Regions from separate parts of the Homo sapiens genome. Here regions 1, 2 and 3 are each reported to be linked to region 4. Evidence: microRNA targets listed by miRTarBase, many of them from high-throughput screens and not tested one by one. Region 4 holds a microRNA gene; each other region holds the end of a gene's coding sequence.
What was found. The annotated mature microRNA hsa-miR-3689a-3p reads CUGGGAGGUGUGAUAUCGUGGU and lies in region 4 at 1,831-1,852, shown strand. An mRNA with a match to its seed (bases 2 to 7 or 8) in the 3' UTR can be bound and repressed. Matches are read on the target gene's strand: a 7mer-m8 pairs with bases 2 to 8, a 7mer-A1 pairs with bases 2 to 7 and ends in A, and an 8mer does both.

Region 1 (5,423 bases), not on the chromosome of region 4:
GACAGCAGAAGGCAGAAGAGCTGACAGCGTAAGCGCCTTCTGGGGCCCGTGGCGTCGTCCTCTAGTTCCCTCCACTGCTGCCCCTGCAGAAGGCCTCATGCACAGATGACCATTGCTGTTGGTTCAAAGGAGGAGGCGGGAAAGGGGCTGGGCTCTGGTCTCTAGAGTGCTCCAGCCTGTGCTTCTCACCCGGTACCTTTGGCGATGTTTGGAGGCATTACTAGTTGTCACACTGGGTGCAGGGGTGCCACTGGCACCTGGTGGGTGGAGACCAAAGGTGCTGTCAGCATCCTACACTGCACAGGATGCACAGGACAGCCCCGAACACACAGAATGATCCAGAATGTCAGTAGGGCCTAGTCCAGCAGTGTCAGCATCAGCCAGGGCAGGAACTAGACCTGCAGAGCCCCGGGCCCAGCCCAGCCCAGCCCTCCTGAGTCAGAATCTGCACGTCGCTGAGATCCCCTGGTGATGCCTGTGCACACTGTAGTTTGGGAAACACCCAAACTGATCACGCACCTGAGCCCTGATCACTCAAAGGTGCAAAAACCGGCTCAGAGAGGAGTCCAAAGTCATCTGCCCCATGGGGTAGGGCCGGGGCAATGGCCTCATCCTGCAGGAATGGCCCCAGCCTTGACACTGGAGTAGAGTCCTTGGCATTCACAGCAGCTGGCCTCGTGTGCCATCCATTAAGTGCAAGATGGCTGGGCCCCCGCCCTCCCTGCACAATGTGCCCAGAGTGCGTCATTTATATCTCCTCCTTGTAGGCGGATATGGGAAGACCCAGTTAGCGTTGATCTCTCATTTCAAACCATTCTGTTTGCTTCTCTCTCTCTGCCCCTCCAGACTCAGTGACTATCTCTTCACGCTAGCCAGATATGCAGCCATGAAGGAGGGGAATCAAGAGAAAATATACATGAAAAATGACCCATCGGCCGAGTCTGAGGGACTCTGAAATCACAGAAAGTGGGAGCTTGGAGGATCCCTCCATGGCGATGGCCGTGGAGAGAGGAGCTTGCCCTTCTGGGGTCCTGGTTCCTGAAGAGCTCACCCAGAGAGGCTCAAAGCAGCCTTTTGTCCCAGCTCAGCTTTGATCTACACCTCTTGCCACCTTCCTCAAGGGACTGTGACCCTTTGGGGATTCTGTCCCTGACCCTGCTTCCCCAAGCTCTCCTGGGTCTTGGAGGGATGTGGGAATGAATTGGCATTGCAGGAAAGACAGGTAAAGTGATTGCTGCAATGAGAAGGAGCTGTGCGGAAAAGGAATAAAAGTTGGAAAGGCTGGAGCCGTGTGTGTGTGTGTGTGTGTGTGTGTGTGTGTGTGTGTGTGTGTGAGAGAGAGCCCTCCCACTGCCAGCTCAGGTTGTTCACAGATTTGGAATGGGACCAGAGGCCCTTGAAAATGTAATTGTGATTTACCTGTGCCAAAGGTGCTTTAAATGTCACATTTGTAAAGGGGAAGGCGGACAAGATTTGGAAGTTTAGTCACCTCTGAGCCACCCATCACCGCCAAAGTGTGGGGGAAGGATAGCTGCAGATTGACAGGCGAGGCTCAGAAACTCCTGGCTTAGATTGAAGTGTGTGTGATGGGGGTGCAGCTTAGAGGACCCCCTCTGAAAGGGATGGAGATGCTGATGAGAACAACACTACCACTTGAAGGTGAACATTCCCTGTCTGGTTGGACTGAGTCAAGGGTCTGCGGTGCAGCATCTTCAGCTTGAGAAAATGAGGTTGTCAGTTTCCAGCAAGGCTGACATCCACCAGACTGATTTCTCCGATGTTGCACTTGGCTGGCTTATGCCTCTGAGATCGGTGCCACGGCTGTATTTATTTCAGTTGTCACTGCTGCTCCCTCCTGCTATGAAACGACACTGCCAGTGCCAGCAGTGTCCTTGGGAAAGGCAATATTTATGAAGGGCAGAAGAGGCAGCCCCAAGAACCTAAAGACTGCAGGCTGCTAATTGCAGGAAATGACTTTGGAAGGGCAGGCTCTTGTCCAGTTTCAGGGCTGAAATGCCTGGCGAACTCCATTCAGCCATCACATATTGACTGAGTGGCTGCTTAGCATGGGCCACCGCGCTAGGCTCGGGACAGCTGGTCTTTCCGGCCATCTTTCTTGCTGGCAAGTCAGCAAACATTACCTTCTTAGTCACGTGCATATTTTTGCCTTCATTCTTACCACCTGGCCTGCAAAGTTTGCAGGAGGGCCAGGTATATTCACTTGTGTCTTCTGGGTCCTTTCATTGCTGACAGGCTGTGATGGCCCTCTTGAGCCTTGGGCAGGGTGGGTGAGGTGCAGATGACCAGGAGTGTGTGAATGCCTTCCAGGAGGTGGCTTTGTTCCGTGCCTCCCTGCCCCCATCGTCACTACCAGGTCTGGTACGGAGTCGGTGCTCAGTGTTTGCAAAACAGAGCTGAAAACGGACTTTGGGAGGCCGAGGCAGGCAGATCACCTGAGGTCAGGAGTTTGAGACCAGCCTGGTCAACATGGTAAAACCCCATTTCTGCTAAAAAAAAAAAAAAAAAAAAAAAATTAGCTGGGCATGGTGGCGGGTGCCTGTAATCCCAGCTATTCAGGAGGCTGAGGCAGGAGAATCACTTGAACCTACGAGGCAGAGGCTGCAGTGAGCCAAGATCGTGACACGACACTCCAGCCTGGCTGATAGAGTGAGACTCCGTCACAAAAAAAAAAAAAAAAAAAAAAAAACCCTGAAAACGCAATCACTAAGGCTCGGTCAGGGAGTATGTTCAAAGAGCTTGCAGCGAATCACTCAATTCTGTCTACACCTCAAAATCTCAAAATCTTCCTGGAATATATATATATATATAAAATAACACAGCAGCCCTGCATGCCTAGCCATGGGAAAGCACAGCCTCCAAAGGATAAGGAAAGCTTTTTGAGTAAATACAACATCCTAAAGTGACAATCTTTGAAACAAGGCCGTTCACCTGTTGCCAAGTCCTGTCCTTCCAGGACCGGGTGTCACAGCCTGGATGTTAACAGTCGCGTTCTCAGACCCCCGCCTCTGTATCTGTCTCCCGGTTCACCAGCAAACACTTCTCTGAGAAACCACCTGGGTGCAGGGCAGATGCCACCACTCAGCAGGTGTTTCTCTCCTGTGCTACCAACCTGGGAAAAATGGAGAAAGCTTGCTTTGGGGGCTGGAAGGATGGGGTGTTTAAAACATTTGCTCTTCTGCAGTGCCTTTCAAAAGCTCTATCAAGAGCCCGAGGCAAAAGAAAAGATGTGTACCCCTCTGTACACTGAGCAAATGTCCTCCCATATTTTGAACCAGGTGGGAAAAGTTAATGAAAGCCCTACAGTCAGGAAATGTGACTGCGAAGCCCCCGCTGCCCCAGTGTTTGCACACCACTGGCAACTCTCAGAAACAATCAGTCCCATTGCACGGGAACACGGGGTTTTGAAACAAACAGCAGCCTGTTTTTATTTAAAGTCGTGATCCCTTGCTTATCGTAGATTTTTTTCATAATTTGATTTTGGAAAATATTGCACACAAATACTACTCGATCCCTGAGTTTGTGGGCACTTCCTTACATTTTGCACCCATGAAAATGCCTCCTCCGCCTCCAGGTCAGGCTCCCTGGAATGGGGTGTTTAGTGTCATTTCCAGAGACAAGCTGGCAGTTGGCTCTTGTGTCAGAGAGAAGCCCACAGTCACAGTGACACCAGCCCGCACTGTGGAAGGGCTTGCTATGTGCAGTGCCCTGAGCCAAGTGTTCCACAGACATTATCTCATTTGAACCCCATAGCAGCCCTGGAAGGAGGCATTGGGTGGGGAACCAAGTTGTCCTGGGGAGTCAGTGCCAAGATGTGAGCCCCGGACGCGGCCTCGTCACTCACAGCCCCGTGCTCCTCAGCTCCCACCCACTGCCGCTTGACAGTCGTTTTAATCACTACCTGGGCTGTGGCGAACAATGCCAGGCTCTGATAGATCCTGCTGTCTCATTTCTCAACCTAGTTTCCCTTAACTAATATTTCATGGCTATCGTTAATGTGCGTTTTTCATCGAGTAATTTCCACAGCCCGAACTTGTAACACATCCCAATGACAAACGTCCCCAGTTCGGAAGCCCCCGTCAGTGGCAATGTCACCCTTGCTGCTGCCTCGACACCTTCCGACAGCCCATTCAGTTTTATGATCGCCCTGTCCCAGTGATCACTACTGAACCTTTAAGAATCCAGATGCATTTCAAGTTTAATTGAATAAAATTCTTTGTATAATAAATTCCGCATGAATGCTACATAAATCAGTGCCTGGAAGGATTTGTGGCTCATCCCTCCCCTCTGGCGGGGCCTGAGAATCTTCTGGCAATACTGACACAAGCTGGAATAAATGCATCTTTGCAGTCAGTCCAGCTAGAGGCAGGCGGCACAGTTTTAACTTGCCTTGGCCTATTGCTTTTCTTCTCTCAGAGTCCTCCTGGAAGATAGTGCTAAAGTCCAACAGAGGCAGGGACAGGCAGATTGCGGAGACCTAGAAACTTTGGGGACATCCCTCGTGTTCTCCCATTCCACAGAATCAGAAACTTCTCAAGCTGTGGTTTGTCACCTTTGGAATGCACACACACATATTCACAAGTTTGCATCCAGTCATAGGAAGTCCATGGAACCTCCCGGTAAGAATCCCTTTTCTAAGAGAACCCATGCGACCCTCTTCGGGAGCTAAGTCAGGATTCCCAAGGCTGCCTTCAGCAGCCTGTTTCAGGGTCAGATAGCTCCAGCCTGGAAGGGTGAGAAGATGCACTTGGGGCTGGCTGGGAGAGGCTGCTGGGTGACCTTTGATGCTTGTAGGGTTGTGGGGTGCAGGGAAGGACTGTCAAACAGCTGGCTTGGGCACTGGCCCCAGGCAGGCTCAGGTTCAAGGCCAGCTTTGTCACCTCCTGCCTTGGTGACTGGGCAAGTCATTCCATCTGTCTCGGTCTTGCTCCTCCACCTATAGAATGGGAATCATAACATCCACCCCATGGGTCACTGGGATTGTTTAATGAGGTAATACTTAAAAGAGTAATATTGCCCCCTGGCAAATATTAGCTCCTGTTATTACAGTTGTTTGCTATTACTACTACTATTTGAATTCAGATTCCATCTTTGTCACTTCCAGCATCTCCTTAAGCAAATGGTTTAACCACTCAAAGCCTCTTTATCTTTTATAATAGGATAATAATACCAATTTCCAAGAGTTCAGAAATAAGTCCACAGGCCCCAGACATGATAGCAGCTCCAAAAAATAGCTATTGTTGTTCAATCATATTTGACCCTTTTCAAAGCACGTTCTAAAAGCTCATCCCCAGGTGACGCTGAGGACAGCATGGCAGCACCTCTGGCCCCTCAGGCTTGCTGAGTGGGTGGGGGAGACAGGTGGCCTCCAGAGGTGGCCAGGCACAATCAGATGAGAAGATGGG
Region 2 (5,342 bases), not on the chromosome of region 4:
CTCAGCCTCCTGAGTAGCTGGGATTACAGGCACGTGCCACCACACCTGGCTAATTTTTGTATTTTTAGTAGAGAAGGGGTTTCGCCATTTTGGCCAGGCTGGTCTCAAACTCCTGACCTCAGGTGATCCACCCGCCTTGGCCTCCCCAGGTGCTGGGATTACAGGCGTGAACCACCGCACCCAGCCTGTACTCTTTCATAAACGTCAAGACAGATGAAGAAAGGTAAAACAATTTGCCTAAGCTGTGATTTCTAAGTGACCCTCTTCACTTTGTCAAAGCATTCATTCATGAGAAAACTATGGAACTCCTGTGTTCTTGAGAGGCTGCAGTCCGGTGTGGGAGGCAGAGCAGTGGCCAGCACACAGCATGGTGAGGCGACAGAGCGTGGGGGCTCTAATAGGAGGTGAGCAGGGCACTCAGCCAGGCGCTGGCGCTCAAACCTAGCGGAAGGCAGAAAGAGCCATGAAGAAGTGGACACTATTTTACTCCAGTAATAGTTCATTTTTATTGTGTCAAACAGTGGACTCTACGTATATTATATTATTTAACTTTTAACATATGCTTAAGAGATGGGCACAACTTTTGCCACCGTATGGTGGGATTAGAGCCTAAAATAGTAATAGATAACTTGCTCTCCACCAGTGTGATGGGCAGCCCAAGATCTGCACCCAGTCTGTTCCAGGGCCCAGACCTTTACCCACTACATTCTCCTTTCTTCTTTTCAGTATCTTCATAACATTCTAATTTTTTTGTAGAGATGGGGGTCTTGCTATGTTGCCCAGACTGGTCTTGAACTGGCCTCATGTGATCCTCCCACTTCTGCCTCACCAAATGCTGAGATTAAGATGTTAGGCACCACACACCACCATCAACATTCTTCTTAACACATTTTGTAAACCTTGTGGAGCCTTCCACTTCAGTGATGATCCCATCAACAGCTAACATTTACCACCTTGGCAGACCGTAAGTCCAAGACACAACTCGACAGGTATAGACTCAAAGCAGACATCATATCTCTGTGTATAGGAAGACACATTTTCTACAGCCTCATGCCACCTTCTCAAGTCTCTCTGGTCCCAGGACAATCGTAACATGGAGATGGATGGCTGGAAGAACAGGAGCTTGACAGCCAAAACTCCAGACCCAAAGAGGAATGCCCCTCGATGACATCTCACCCATCAGCTGCTGCAAACTTGCCTGATCAGTCGTGAACCCCACTTGAGGAGGGACACCGACTGTTAAGTCTCACCCATTCTTAGGACTGTCAGTGTGACCAAAGCTGCCACCTGCAGAGCCCAGGAGAGGAGTCCTCGCCTTTACCCCCTTTCCCATCTCCATCCTTCTCCCCGAAGCCCACAGCTCAGTGCCCTCTCCTGAGGAAGCCTCTGATCCCACAGCCAAGCACAAGATCTAGGCCTGTGGGCACCAACAGGATGGGGCTCTGCAGTCAGGGAGCGTCAGCTCGGTGCAGGTACAGGTGCCTTAGTGACCTATAGGTCAGGGGCATGACCTATGGACCGAATCGAGCCATTCACAGTGAGGCCTCACCTGTCCTGGGATCGCAGGCACACACAGCTCCCCACAACCACTACACACACACACACACACACACACACACGCATTTTAAATTCCCATGAAAAAATTAACTTTGCATATATGGGCCACATGCCCTTCCACATCCTGCTTAAAGCACCTCAACAGCCCCTAAGTTCCTGTTTTGTCAAAATGACTTGCCCTGGAACCGGGCACAGGCAAGGCTGCCCATGTGAGTGTGAGTCTGTTCACCCATCTCTGGTCCACAGCCCACACCAGGGCCTGGTCAGGCTGCCTCCCATCGTCTTCTGCGAGCAGGCCCAGCTGGCATACACAGGTGGCGACCTGGAATCAAGCAATCAAGCAGGTGCCTTCTCTCAGGTCACTCTTCCATACTTGCTGAGGAAAACCACAAAAGACCTCCAAGCTGCTTGAGTTAAAGTCTCCATTTATTTTTATTTTTTTACAAAAATCCAATGTAAGACCATTGTGCTCGTGACGAAAAGGGGTGGGGTGGATGGACGTGGCATGGATATCAAAGCTTCCCCCCACAAACTAGGAGCTCCCCACTCTGTCCGGCGCAGCTCCCAGAAAGATCCCATCCTTCCGGACAGGACCCCAGCTGGTGAGCCCTGGCCTGAGGCACAGTCCACACGGAGGAGCACTGCCCAGGGAGCCAGCGCTCACAGTGGCCTGCAGAGCCCTGGGACGGTGTTATGGTAAGACAGCCCAAACCGGAGCAGCAAGCCGGCCACCCAGAGAACGAGGCGCTCCTGCACCCTGCGAGCCAGGACAAGGTGGCCAGGGGCGGCCCACAGACAGCCAAGGAGACCCGGGGTCTGTGGCGCCGCTTTCCCATCTCAAGCGAGTCACAGGTCGGCGGCTTTCCCGTGGTGAGAAGCACCTGACCAGTGACACTGTGGCCACCTTGCTGCCTCTCGCTGAGGAGGGCGTGCCCCTCAGAGCCTGTCTGCAGTCCTTCAAGCCAGTGTTCCTTTCAGGGTCAAGGAGGGCTGTCCTTGTTGGAAGCACCGGCACCACAGCCCTCCCTGCGGCATGTTTTGGTGTCAGACCACTCAGCCCTTCTTAGATCCACCAGTGACATTCGGGGCCCGACAACCTGGCTCCACTAAAGGGAGAGGCCCTGGCTCCACCACACAGACGGCCCCAGCTCACTGAGTCCCGCTAAAGGGGGTCCCACCACACAGACGGCCCCGGCTCACCGAGTCCCACTGAAGTCAGTATGTGAGTTCCTCACATTAAAAGAAACCAGATGAAATAGCAGCCACAATATAGCGCCACACACCACACTCTTTGGCTCCCCGAGGGAAGAAGGCTACTGCTAAAAGGAATACAAGTCAGGAGTCAGGTAGAGGGCAACTAGAAAGTTCTGAGGAAGGGCGTCTGACCCCCACTGCTGGGAACATAACCACACTGCCTCAGCAGGGGAGCTACAGGCTGATGCTGGGGTTGGGGGCGGGGAACCTTTGGAAACACAGTCCTGGCGGCGGCCGGGTCCGGTTTGCCAATGGGGAGAGTTCCCTTAAGCCGAGCTAGCCCTACAGGTGGGTGGGAGCTACACAAAAGAGCCCAGCTTCAAAACAGTACTTGAAGAGGACCCACGTGGTACAGGCAGGTCAGAGGAGAACGTATTCCAAGAAATAGAAGCACAGGATGCCAAGGTCTAGGGAAGACGGAACTGGCTTAAGGCATGTGCATGACCAGGACAAACCTGAGCTTTTGTTCAGTTGCTAGAAAACTTCCAGAGTCAACTCCACTTCCAGAAAGTAGGGTTCAAGAAACACGTCATGGGCTAAATCCCTGACAAATGCCACTCACACCCTCCTAGGTTCCCCTACTGCCACCGTGACCCAAAAAATTAGCTTATTTCAGTTTCAGCCCAGGGAACAGAATCCTAAGCAGGGAGTGGAAAGTGGTAACTCGGGTTGTGAATGCCCGTTAGATTCCAAGGCTGGATGTGAGCTTACACAGCAAATCACAGCCTCCCATTGTTCTAGCACATACCAAACCTCGGGGAGTCCTACAGCCAAGCTGACATTAGGGGTCCAAAAACCACAGATAACACAGGATGGGGCTCCAGACAGAGGCGGGGGGAAGGTGAATTTCACCAAGGAATTATCCCAAGGCAGGCGCCTTGCTGTAAAACTTCCCGGCCAGCCGGGTGGGTTCCTCGAAGGACACTGGCTTGCTCTACACTAGGGAGAGGAGGCTGACCTGCAAACCACTTCAGACCACAGCAGATGTGCACGCTGCTGATCTCCTGTCCAATCCAAGAAAGAGCACTTCAGAAACGCCTGAGGCCCACAGCACGTGTGTTTCAACAGAAGAGCAGGATAGAAAGAGCCATCTGGGAGTGGCGTCTTCAGCCCCTATTCTTTCTCACTCTTTGCTTCCTCATTCTCTCTCAAACAAGAGAGAAATGGGAGAGCAGGGATAAGTACGGAGGCAAGCCTGGCCTAAAGATAAATCCTCAAAAATCGCTGGCCCCAGCAGCAGGAAGCTGAACAGCCCACCAGGGTCAGGCGCTCCCAGGGATTCACTGGGAAGAGAATGTGAGTTACAGGTTGCTGACTGGCAACAGAAAGGGTAAGGAAGAGACCTTGTCCAGGCCCGCAAGAGGGCCAAGTTCATCCCTTTCTGGTTGCTGCACACAGATGGCGCTGGGGAGGATGGGAGATGATCTTTAAGGATAAGCCAGTGACACAAGGCCAGGACCCATCTCCGCCAGAATACAGAACAAAGGAGCCTGCGCGGTCCCTCCCTTAGAAAGGCAAAACTCACACTCCCCCAGCCAAAAATATATATGTATGCAAGTGTGTGCATGTATTTATATACACACACATATATATAAATAAGCCTTGAATGGCAAATCTGAAACTTTCTCTTTTTAAATAATCATAATAGTTGTTATTGAATGTAAAAACCACGAACCAGCTGTCCTGGGCGTACGAACGGTGTGAGTGACTCTGCAGAGTCGCCACAGTCCTCAGTGTAAGCTATCAGTCAGTGCCCTGTGTGGGGAACCCCGGGGACTCCGCCCAGGGCTCCAGGCCCAGTGTGGCTGACTTCAAGATAAAGGCAGCGGTTTCCTTCCACTCCTCCTGCTGCCCCTTCCAGCAGAGGCTCTGGGCCACCCACCAGCAGATGTGCCCAAGGTCCTGCAATGCCTAGGAACCTTGGGAGCCATCTTCCTCCCTCTGCTCATCCTCTTCCCCAGACCGTGCGCTGCCCCTAGATGAACTTGAAGCACTTGGTCTTGTCATGGGGCAGGCGTGTCTTGAAGAGCACAGAATCCACCCTGAACTGCGTGTACAGGAGGGGCATGTAGCCGTACACCTTCACGAAGAAGTTGATGCACTTGTGCCGCTCGTGGAAGTGGGAGTCATCATGAGACAGGGCCTGAGGGCATCCTGGGCATCGGAATGTCCACCGTGAGGTCACCTGGAAACGGGAGAGAGAGACAGAGTGGGAATCCCAGCTAATACTGACAGAACCCTTGCAGCTGAGCCGATCCCACACTCCCATGTCCATGGTGAAGACGCTGATCCCCTCAGGGGCAACATCCCTGCAGAGCATGGCAGGAACCAGAGCCCGGCCCCAGGCCTCCTGCCTACCAGATGTCTCCAGAACATTGTCAGGTATTCTGTTGAGATGGCCTACGCTTCTCAGATGCCAAAAGCCTTAACGTGTGTAGTGTCAGCTGTCTCAGTAAGTCTACTCCTAGTATGTACTTGGTTGCAGAGCCATAGGTAGGTACCGAGTTGTTTGTTTCATCAATGTTTTGAAT
Region 3 (5,000 bases), not on the chromosome of region 4:
CCCTATATTCAGCCCAAGAGGGAAATCCCAGCAGAGGAGCAGATCACCCTGGAGCCTGAGCTGGAGGAGGCACTGGCACATGCCACAGATGCTGAAATGTGTGACATTGCAGGTGGGTAGCTGTGGGAAGTTGAGGGTGAGAGGATCAGGGGCAGGTGGATTCTAGCCATGACATGGGACTAGTGAGGAAGGCCCTCAACCAGAATGTGGATGTCTAAGAAAGCGTCAAGCAGTAGTTTCAAGCTTTTCTTGTTTGTTTATATATTTATTCATTTTTAAATTTAATAACACCTCAAGAGCAATTTTACAGGGATTGTAAGAGCAAATAAAAGTGGAATCATTGGGCCAGGCACCATGACTCACACCTGTAACCTCAGCACTTGGGAGGCCTGAGTGCACTTGGGAGCACTCAGGATTGCCTGAGCTCGGGAGTTCAAGACCAGCCTGGGCAACATAGTGAAACCCCGTCTCTACTAAAATACAAAAAACTGGCCGGGTGCGGTGGCTCACACCTGTAATCCCAACACTTTGGGAGGCCGAGGCGGGTGGATCACGAGGTCAGGAGATCGAGAACATCCTGGCTAACACGGTGAAACCCCGTCACTACTAAAAATACAAAAAATTAGCTGGGTGTGGTGGTGGGCGCCTGTAGTCCCAGCTACTCGGGAGGCTGAGGCAGGAGAATGGTGTGAACCCAGGAGGCCGAGCTTGCAGTGAGCCAAGATAGTGCCACTGCACTCCAGCCTGGGCAACAGAGCGAGACTCCGTCTCAAAAAACAAAAAACAAAAACAAAAACAACAACAAAAAAAATTAGCCAGGCATGGCAGCATGCACCTGTAATCCCAGTTACTTGGGAGGCTGAGGCAGAAGAATTGCTTGAACCCGGGAGGTGGAGGTGGCAGTGAGCCAAGATCGCACCACTGCACTCCAGCCTGGGGGACAGAGTGAGACTCCGTCTCGGGGGGAAAAAAAGTGGAACCATTCTGGCTGAAAGAGGAGAGTCTCTACAGACTCCTTTATCCTCTAGTGGCTCATAAGGGACCTTCCCTTAGCCCTTTCTCAATGTTTTAGAAACTACTGCCTTAAGAAGTTTATGGAAAGGACCCCTGGGGCTGAAAGAGGGTGGGAAACTTCTTTGGCAAAGTGTAAGTGGTCAGGCTTTACAAATGCAACAGATTCAGAAATAGGTAGGAGGGAGGCTTGGAACAGGTTCCTTCTCATTCCCTGTGACTCCTCTTCTTACCCTCTCCAGCAATTCTGGACATGTACACACTGATGAGTAACAAGCAATACTATGATGCCCTCTGCAGTGGAGAAATCTGCAACACTGAAGGCATTAGCAGTGAGTGTGTTTGGGGAGCATGGTCCCCAGGGCTCTGGGCAGGCAGTCCTAGTGTCTGGGAGAAGGTAGAAAAGGGTGAAATTGATGATTCTGGGAGAGGACATGCTGCATGAGTGATAAGAAAACCTGTGGAGTGCCAGGTGAGGTGGCTCATGCCTGTAATCCCAGCATTTAGGGAGGCCGAGGCAGGTGGATCACCTGAGGTCAGGAGTTCAAGACCAGCCTGGCCAACATAGTGAAACCTTGTCTCTACTAAAACTACAAAAATTAGCTGGTTGCATGCCTGTAATCCCAGATATTATACTTGGGAAGCAGAGGCACAAGAATTTCTTGAACCCGGGAGGTCAAGGCTGCTGTGAGTTGAGATTGTGCCACTGCATTCCAGCCTAGGTGGATAGAGCGAGACTCCATCTCAAAAAAAAAAAAAAAGAAAAGAAAAGAAAACCAATGGGGAGGAGATTATGGGGAACATGTTGGGGTTCCCTTCCTGCCCTCATTCACCAGGTGTGGTACAGCCTGACAAGTATAAGCCAGTGCCGGATGAACCCCCAAATCCCACAAACATTGAGGAGATACTAAAGAGGGTCCGAAGCAATGACAAGGAGCTGGAGGAGGTGAACTTGAATAATATACAGGTATTTGACTTGCATCCTCCAAACCATAACACCGGATAACCACTGACATCCGAGAGTCCCTTAGCCCACCATCTCCTATTCCCCTCCGATAGGACATCCCAATACCCATGCTAAGTGAGCTGTGTGAGGCAATGAAGGCAAATACCTATGTGCGGAGCTTCAGTCTGGTAGCCACGAGGAGTGGTGACCCCATTGCCAATGTAAGGCTAGTTGACATCCCCAGCCCTCTCCCCACATCTTACATGCACCTGTTGCATGGCTGTCATAAAGGGTTTTGCTAGGGAGTGCTATTCTCATCATGCCTTCTTAGGGCAGCCCTCATGGAGACTCCTACCTTCAGTGCTATGGCTCATAACTCTCTACTCTCTCTAACACCCCTAGTCCCACTGCACATTCATCTCCCTGCTTTCCCCTGCTATCCGCCCTGCTTTCTGTATCCCTCTAGCTCCATTTACAGCACCTGAAAGACTCTTCTCAAAGAGCTGTGTTTCCCTCTTGCTCCTGTTCTTTCTTTCCTCAGTCATCTGTGAAACTGTTCCCTAATCCTAACCCAAGTCCCTACTACCCAGGCAGTGGCTGACATGTTGCGTGAGAATCGTAGCCTCCAGAGCCTAAACATCGAATCCAACTTCATTAGCAGCACAGGACTCATGGCTGTGCTGAAGGCAGTTCGGGAAAATGCCACACTCACTGAGCTCCGTGTAGACAATCAGGTCAGCATTCCCTTCCCCTGATGTTAGCATTCAGTCTCATTGAGTCTCCTCCCTGAGCCAGCCAGTGGGGCAGCTATCTTACTTAATCTTGCTTGAATTCTCCTCTTCATTGTCTCTGTGAGGGAAGCCAAGTCAGCATCTCTCTTCACCCACTGTGGAGAAACAAGCTTCTTTGACCTCCCAAAGGGGTCTGTGATGTGGGATGGTAAACAGCCCAGAGAGGGTGACTGTCAGCTTTTGCCTCTCCCTCCCCCAGCGCCAGTGGCCTGGTGATGCAGTGGAGATGGAGATGGCCACCGTGCTAGAGCAGTGTCCCTCTATTGTCCGCTTTGGCTACCACTTTACACAGCAGGGGCCACGAGCTCGGGCAGCCCAGGCCATGACCCGAAACAATGAACTACGTGAGTAACTGCAGACATGATGTGTGGAGTGGTCAGGGAAGTGCAGAAATTGGTGGATCCTCCTGAAAGCAGACCTAATGACTAACAGCCCAGGGTGCTACCAAAGAGCTATTCATATGAGAATTTCAAATCCCAAGAGTGATCAGAAAGTAAACAGAAAACTCCCCCTGCCCCAAATATGGACCAGTAGAGAGGTAGAAAGGATGCCAGAGATAATCATACTTGTTTAGAGGTATCGTAATTTTATTTGTGGTGTGGTTTCTTGTTTTGTTTTGTTAATGTGGGATGGGCCTGTAAGGTGGCCTAAGACACTACCAATTTATGAGTTTGGCTAAGGGACTGGAAAGGAGAAGAGTGCCTTTGCAGAAAGCAGGAGCTGGAACAAACACTTATGTTTAATATTGCTCCTTTACAGGTCGCCAGCAAAAGAAGAGATAACACTGCATTTCCCTTTACCAACTAGCGCTGGGAGCACTGGACACTTAAATCCTCATCTGTCCTCCTTTCCTGTAAATAAAAGCCCTTCTATCCATTTTGCCTGCCTCCTTCCTTGGGCTTTGGGGTGAGAATCTTGGCGCTAACCCCCAAGGGTTACTGCCAGTTCACCAGGGGATTATTTATACTCTGGGGATCAGCAGGCAGGGAGGTTCAGGTTACTAGGAGGAGGTGGGGGTGTTCCCTCCCTTGGTGTTCCCCATAACCCTGCCAATGCCTTTTGACTCTTCTACTTTCACAGGGAACTTAGCCACAGCCCTGTTTCCAGATGTGGCCAGGTCCCCCTAGTGCCTACCTGCAGTCCTTATGTGATTTGAAGGGGGAAAGGACTTTGAGTGGTAGTGGAGAAGCAGGCAGACAACATGAAGGGCAAAGACCTCTTTTTGACAGTCTTATTAATAGGGCACCAGGCTGATGCAGCTGACGCTTGGCATGGCTTTGGTAGGAGGTGGGGGAGGGGTTAGAAGTATGGATAGCCGTGGCTGGGTGCGGTGGCTCATGCCTGTAATCCCAGCACTTTGGGAGGCCGAGGTGGGCGGATCACGAGGTCAGGAGATCGAGACCATCCTGGCTAACACAGTGAAACCCCGTCTCTACTAAAAATACAAAAAATTAGCTGGGCATGGTGGCGGGCGCCTGTAGTCCCAGCTACTCAGGAGGCTGAGGCAGGAGAAAGGCGTGAACCTGGGAGGCAGAGCTTGCAGTGAGCCGAGATCGTGCCACTGCACTCCAGCCTGGGCGATAGAGCGAGACTCTGCCTCAAAAAAAAAAAAAAAAAAAAAAGGAGTGTGGAGAGCTGTGTACCTTGCAGGCAAGGAGTAGTTGGAATGAGAATGAACAGATCTGAAATCCTGAGATCCAACAAGGAACCAGACTTAAGGAAAGTTAAGTTCTCAGCACCCATTGTAATTTATTTGTGAATGAATGGGAAAAGGGTATCAGTCCAAGGGGAGATCAGGTGGTTCCTCCTCATCAGAGTCAAACTCAACATTTTCATCTTTTACCCATCGACCTCGTCCATCTGGGATCCATCCAGAGCTGGAAACATCAGAGAAAATAGCATCGATCAGGAAAGAGGCTTATTAAGAAGTTAGTGGTGAGCTCACACCAGTAATCCCAGCACTCTGGGAGGCCGAGGCAGGTGGATCACTTGAGGTCAGGAGTTCGAGACCAGCCTGACCAACATAGTGAAACCCTGTCTCTACCAAAAAAAAAAAAAAAAAAAAAAAAAAAGTTAGCAGTGAGAAAAAATTGAGAGCCATGTAAGTTGGGTGGCTAAAACAAAACGAAACCAAAGATGGAAAACAACAATGGGAGTCCGGGTGCGGTGGCTCACACCTGTAATCCCAACACTTTAGGAAACTGAGGCAGGTGGATCACCTGAGGTCAGGAGTTCGAGGCCAGCCTGACCAA
Region 4 (5,423 bases):
CGGGTGGCTTGGCTTAGAAGGCCTAGAGGTGGACCTAGAATGCGTACTTTTAGGGGGCTCCCCGGATGACTTCAACAGGCAGCCAGGTGGGGGCCACTGATGGGCAGACACCAAGAAACACCAGGAACACTTCTGCTAAGCGCTGGCCTTGTCCCATTAAGAACCTGTGGCTCCCCTGGGAGGTGTGATCCCGTGCTCCCTGGGAGGTGTGATCCCGTGCTCCCTGGGAGGTGTATCCTGTGCTCCCTGGGAGGTATGATCCTGTGCTCCCTGGGAGGTGTATCCTGTGCTTCCTGGGAGGTGTGATATCGTGGTTCCTGGGAGGTGTGATCCTGTGCTTCCTGGAAGGTGTGATCCTGTGCTTCCTGGGAGGTGTGATATCGTGCTTCCTGGGACGTGTGATGCTGTGCTTCCTGGGAGGTGTGATCCCACACTCGCTGGGAGGTGTGATCCCGTGCTCCCTGGGAGGTCTGATCCCGTGCTTTCCTGGGAGGTGTGATCCCGTGCTCCCTGGGAGGTCTGATCCCATGCCTCCTGGGAGGTGTGATATCATGGTTCCTGGGAGGTATGATATCGTGGTTCCTGGGAGGTGTGATCCCGTGCTCCCTGGGAGGTCTGATCCCGTGCTTCCTGGGAGGTATGATATCATGGTTCCTGGGAGGTATGATATCGTGGTTCCTGGGAGGTGTGATCCCGTGCTTCCTGGGAGGTGTGATCCTGTGCTTCCTGGGAGGTGTGATCCCATGCTTCCTGGGAGGTGTGATCCTGTGCTTCCTGGGAGGTGTGATACCATGCTTCCTGGGAGGTGTGATCCCACGCTCACTGGGAGGTGTGATCTCACACTCGCTGGGAGGTGTGCTATCGTCTTCCCTGGGAGGTGTGATCCTGTTCTTCCTGAGCGGTGTGATCCTGTGCTCCCTGGGGGGTCTGATCCTGTGCTTCCTGGGAGGTGTGATATCATGGTTCCTGGGAGGTGTGATCCCGTGCTTCCTGGGAGGTGTGATATTGTGGTTCCTGGGAGGTGTGATCCCGTGCTCCCTGGGAGGTGTGATCCCGTGCTCCCTGGGAGGTGTGATCCCGTGCTCCCTGGGAGGTGTGATCCCGTGCTCCCTGGGAGGTGTGATCCCGTGCTCCCTGTGAGGTCTGATCCTGTGCTTCCTGGGAGGTGTGATATCGTGGTTCCTGGGAGGTGTGATATCGTGGTTCCTGGGAGGTGTGATCCCGTGCTTCCTGGGAGGTGTGATCCTGTGCTTCCTGGAAGGTGTGATATCGTGGTTCCTGGGAGGTGTGATATCGTGGTTCCTGGGAGGTGTGATATCGTGGTTCCTGGGAGGTGTGATATCGTGGTTCCTGGGAGGTGTGATCTGGTGCTCCCTGGGAGGTGTGATCCCATGCTTCCTGGGAGGTGTGATCCCGTGCTTCCTGGGAGGTGTGATCCTGTGCTTCCTGGGAGGTGTGATACCATGCTTCCTGGGAGGTGTGATCCCACGCTCACTGGGAGGTGTGATCTCACACTCGCTGGGAGGTGTGCTATCGTCTTCCCCGGGAGGTGTGATCCTGTTCTTCCTGAGAGGTGTGATCCTGTGCTCCCTGGGGGGTCTGATCCTGTGCTCCCTGGGAGGTGTGATATCATGGTTCCTGGGAGGTGTGATCCTGTGCTTCCTGGGAGGTGTGATATCGTGGTTCCTGGGAGGTGTGATCCCGTGCTTCCTGGGAGGTGTGATACTGTGCTTCCTGGGAGGTGTGATCCCGTGCTCCCCAGGAGGTCTGATCCCGTGCTTCCTGGGAGGTGTGATATCGTGGTTCCTGGGAGGTGTGATATCGTGGTTCCTGGGAGGTGTGATATCGTGGTTCCTGGGAGGTGTGATATTGTGGTTCCTGGGAGGTGTGATCCCGTGCTTCCTGGGAGGTGTGATCCTGTGCTTCCTGGGAGGTGTGATCCTGTGCTTCCTGGGAGGTGTGATCCTGTGCTTCCTGGGAGGTGTGATATCGTGGTTCCTGGGAGGTGTGATCTGGTGCTCCCTGGGAGGTGTGATCCGGTGCTCCCTGGGAGGTGTGATCCTGTGCTTCCTGGGAGGTGTGATCCTGTGCTTCCTGGGAGGTGTGATATCGTGGTTCCTGGGAGGTGTGATCCGGTGCTCCCTGGGAGGTGTGATCCAGTGCTCCCTGGGAGGTGTGATCCCGTGCTCCCTGGGAGGTGTGATCCCATGCTCCCTGGGAGGTGTGATCCCGTGCTCCCTGGGAGGTGTGATCCCGTGCTCCCTGGGAGGTGTGATCCCGTGCTTCCTGGGAGGTGTGATCCCGTGCTTCCTGGGAGGTGTGATCCCGTGCTTCCTGGGAGGTGTGATCCCGTGCTTCCTGGGAGGTGTGATCCTGTGCTTCCTGGGAGGTGTGATCACATGCCTGCTGGTGATAGAGAGGCACAGCTCCCCATTGGGGAACAACCAGGACCCAGCCCTGGGAGGTGTGGATTCAGGAGGGCCCCAGAGGCCTGCATGAGCTAGTGAGAGCTAGGAGGTGGTGTCCGCACTGGGAGCGGGACCCACACAGAGGGCACGTGGGGTAAGCATCAATGAAGTTCCGGGTGTCAGCCAATTGCACCCTCCCAATGGCCCTGGAGCAGTTGCAAAAGCTTCCTGCTCTCCCATCGTCCCCTTCTCCAACCCACTCCCGAATGCAGACGCCCCTGGCCCTCCTGGGTGGCCAGAGCCTGAGGACACTCACTAGGACAGCCCTGGGCAGCTCAAAGGAGCACTTTGGCCTGGCACAGGCCAGCTCCAGGGATGCCCCCACCTTCCTCCACATGCATGGATCGGGTTTCGTCACCAAGACATCTGCAGGACAGGAGCGGGGCCTCTGGCCACATGGCCAGAGTGCCTCCTCCATTCATGGGTCCCATGTGCAAATGGGCAGACAGGAGCTCTGAGCAGCAGATTCCCCGAGGCCACATGGGGCACTGGTGGCATCTGAGCCTGGGTCGCTGAGGCAGCTGTCCTCAGCCTGGTCTCACCAGGCCACAGCTGTCAGTGGGTAAACGTGTGTGCGCGTGTGTGTGTGCTCCTGCGGCACTGTGGGGGTCATGCCTGTGGCTGAGCATCTCCTGGAATTCTCTCGTCTCACTTTCGACCTCCTCTTCTCAGCAAATCCCATCAACCCCATCTTTGAAACACCTGGAGCCGGAGTGTGACCCACTCTCATGGGTCTGCACCGCCCCCAGCCTGCGTCTGGGTTACTGCCCCGTGTGGCTTCCCTCCCCATCTCTGCTCAGGCCACACCAGCCCCCTCCCACTTCCCCTTCCTCTCCCCACTCCCTCTGGCCTCTGCCCTGCTGTTCCCTCTCCTGCAAAGCCCTTCCTGCCCGCTGGGCTCCAGGCAGAGAGAACCTTCCCAGTGGCCCTGGTCACCCAGGAGAGCACTTCAATCCCCACCCCACACACACTACACACCCCATACACACAGGCACACACACCACACCCACACACACACTATACAGACACAGCACAAACCACACACACAGGCATGCACACTATACACATGCAGCACACACCACACACACAGGCACATTCCCCACAGGCACGCACACATATACCATACACACGCCAGCACACACACCACACAGGCACATGCACAAACACCACCTCCACACACAGGCATACACCACACACACACACACCACACACACCACACACACAGGCACACACACCACATACACAGGCACAGCTCCCCACAGGCACACACACACACCACACAGGCACACCACACACACAGGTACACACACAACACACATACACTTCACATAAACACAAATAGCACATGCAAAATACACCACATAGCACATGCACACACGTGCCATACACACATGCACATCACCCCCCCCACACACACACAACCACACACATGCACATTGTCTCCTCCCCTTTACATTTCCTCAGGTCTCATTCCTCTGGGCACACCTTACCCCTGCCTTGTGGGTCTTGGTCAGCCCGTGTCCCCTGGAGTGGCATCTCCTTGAGGGTGGGTTCTCCCCTGCTGCTCCCGCCTGGCACACAGCAGGTGGTCAATGAACTGCCACTGAAGGAATGGGGGAATGAATGGATGAATGAAAGAGTGGATGGATGGATGGATGGATGGATGGATGGATGGATGGATAAATGATGAATAGATGGATGGATGGATAGATGAATGGATGGATAGATGGATGGACAGATAAATGATGAATAGATGGATGAATGGATGGATGAATGAATGAATGGATGAACAGATGAATGAAAGGGTGAACGAATGTGTGGATGGATGGATGGATAAATGATGAATAGATTAATAGATGGATGAATGGATGAATGAATGGATGAATGAAAGGGTGAATGGATGAATGGATGGATGGATGGATGAATGGATGGATAAATGATGAATAGATGAATGGATAGATAGATGAATGGATGAAAGGGTGAATGGATGGATAGATGAATGGATGGATGAACAGATGAATGAATGGATGTGGTGGCAGAACTCCTTGGGGCCAGTGGGAGGAGGAAGGCAAGGAAGGCAGACTGGGGGCATGCACCCTCCCTCCAGGGTTCCTTCTCCCCAGGAAACTTCCCAGAGCTGTCACCTACAACCCCGAGAAATCGTGGGAGTCCCCTTGCATGACGGGTGCGAGGGGAGTCCCACAACTCTGGGCCACAACTGTGCCATGGCTCAGCCACCGGCCGAGTGGACCTCAAGCCTCCTGCTGCCTGGGATGGTCAAAGGGTCATTGTGAGTCTGAGCCACTGACTCCTCCAGACCAGGCTGGGGCCCCTCTGCAGGATGCCTCTCCGGAGGACAGATCAGCTGCCCACCTGTGCATTTCTGGCCGCTCCACCAGCAGGCACCACGCCGACTGTCCGCCCACCTGCCTTGCTCTCTCTCCTCTTCTGGATTCGATGGCAAGGACCTTCAGACCCATCAACCTTTGACGACTGTGAGCGTCCATTGCCGGAGTCGCTTTCCCAACTCAAATGCATTTATTAGGCGCCATCCTAATCTACTCCAGGATTTTAAGAAAGGGGTGGGCTGCTCAAATTCATGACGACTGAGTTTTAACTGGCGTTTGTCCCTCAAGGCGTCTCTCAATGTGGTCTTTAAACAGTTGATGTTGGGAAACGGTTGCCTCTTCCAACTCTGCGCATCCTTGATTCGTGGGCCGTTTCCTTTCATTCCTGGCTCTTTCCAGAGCTGGTCTGCCACGTGGTACCTTGCCACATGGAATTCAGGCATCCAGCCTGCCCACCATCATTTCATGTCAAGCCTCCTCCCCAAGGGTTGCAAGTTATGAGTTCATAATCTACCTCTGAGCTATCACAGTGATCAAACAATTGTACCCAATGTTCTGCCTGTGGATGACATGGGTCAACAGCCTCCCATCCTCTCACAATGGCCCC

Region 1: miRTarBase lists MMAB as a target of hsa-miR-3689a-3p. Seed matches in the 3' UTR shown: 7mer-m8 at 1,344-1,350 and 7mer-m8 at 3,277-3,283.
Region 2: the mRNA of EXTL3 is a reported target of hsa-miR-3689a-3p. Seed matches in the 3' UTR shown: 7mer-A1 at 4,732-4,738 and 7mer-m8 at 338-344.
Region 3: the mRNA of SCNM1 is a reported target of hsa-miR-3689a-3p. Seed matches in the 3' UTR shown: 7mer-m8 at 4,273-4,279 and 8mer at 4,106-4,113.

Annotation. Positions count from the first base shown.
Region 1 is chr12:109,552,560-109,557,982 of GRCh38, reverse strand. It overlaps MMAB (metabolism of cobalamin associated B), which reads left to right. Exons shown (of 9, transcript NM_052845.4): 9 at 847-4,268. The coding sequence ends at 955. Among named protein-coding and RNA genes, the nearest start is that of MMAB, 18 kb to the left of the region's middle. RefSeq lists an enhancer at 1-345.
Region 2 is chr8:28,750,311-28,755,652 of GRCh38, reverse strand. EXTL3 (exostosin like glycosyltransferase 3) reads right to left here. Exons shown (of 7, transcript NM_001440.4): 7 at 54-4,996. The coding sequence ends at 4,787. Among named protein-coding and RNA genes, the nearest start is that of EXTL3, 51 kb to the right of the region's middle. RefSeq lists enhancers at 1,993-2,935, 2,936-3,880.
Region 3 is chr1:151,168,611-151,173,610 of GRCh38, reverse strand. SCNM1 (sodium channel modifier 1) reads right to left here. Exons shown (of 7, transcript NM_024041.4): 7 at 3,315-4,625. The coding sequence ends at 4,526. It overlaps TNFAIP8L2-SCNM1 (TNFAIP8L2-SCNM1 readthrough), which reads right to left. Exons shown (of 7, transcript NR_144937.2): 7 at 3,315-4,625. TMOD4 (tropomodulin 4) reads left to right here. Exons shown (of 10, transcript NM_013353.3): 4 at 1-112; 5 at 1,254-1,343; 6 at 1,848-1,978; 7 at 2,071-2,178; 8 at 2,548-2,691; 9 at 2,948-3,092; 10 at 3,508-3,624. The coding sequence ends at 3,530. Among named protein-coding and RNA genes, the nearest start is that of TMOD4, 4.9 kb to the left of the region's middle.
Region 4 is chr9:134,845,755-134,851,177 of GRCh38, reverse strand. MIR3689C (microRNA 3689c) reads left to right here and starts at 1,809; the gene lies at 1,809-1,880. MIR3689A (microRNA 3689a) reads left to right here and starts at 1,614; the gene lies at 1,614-1,691. It overlaps MIR3689D1 (microRNA 3689d-1), which reads left to right and starts at 1,496; the gene lies at 1,496-1,569. It overlaps MIR3689B (microRNA 3689b), which reads left to right and starts at 906; the gene lies at 906-1,053. It also overlaps MIR3689D2, MIR3689E, MIR3689F and LOC101448202. RefSeq lists an enhancer at 5,393-5,423.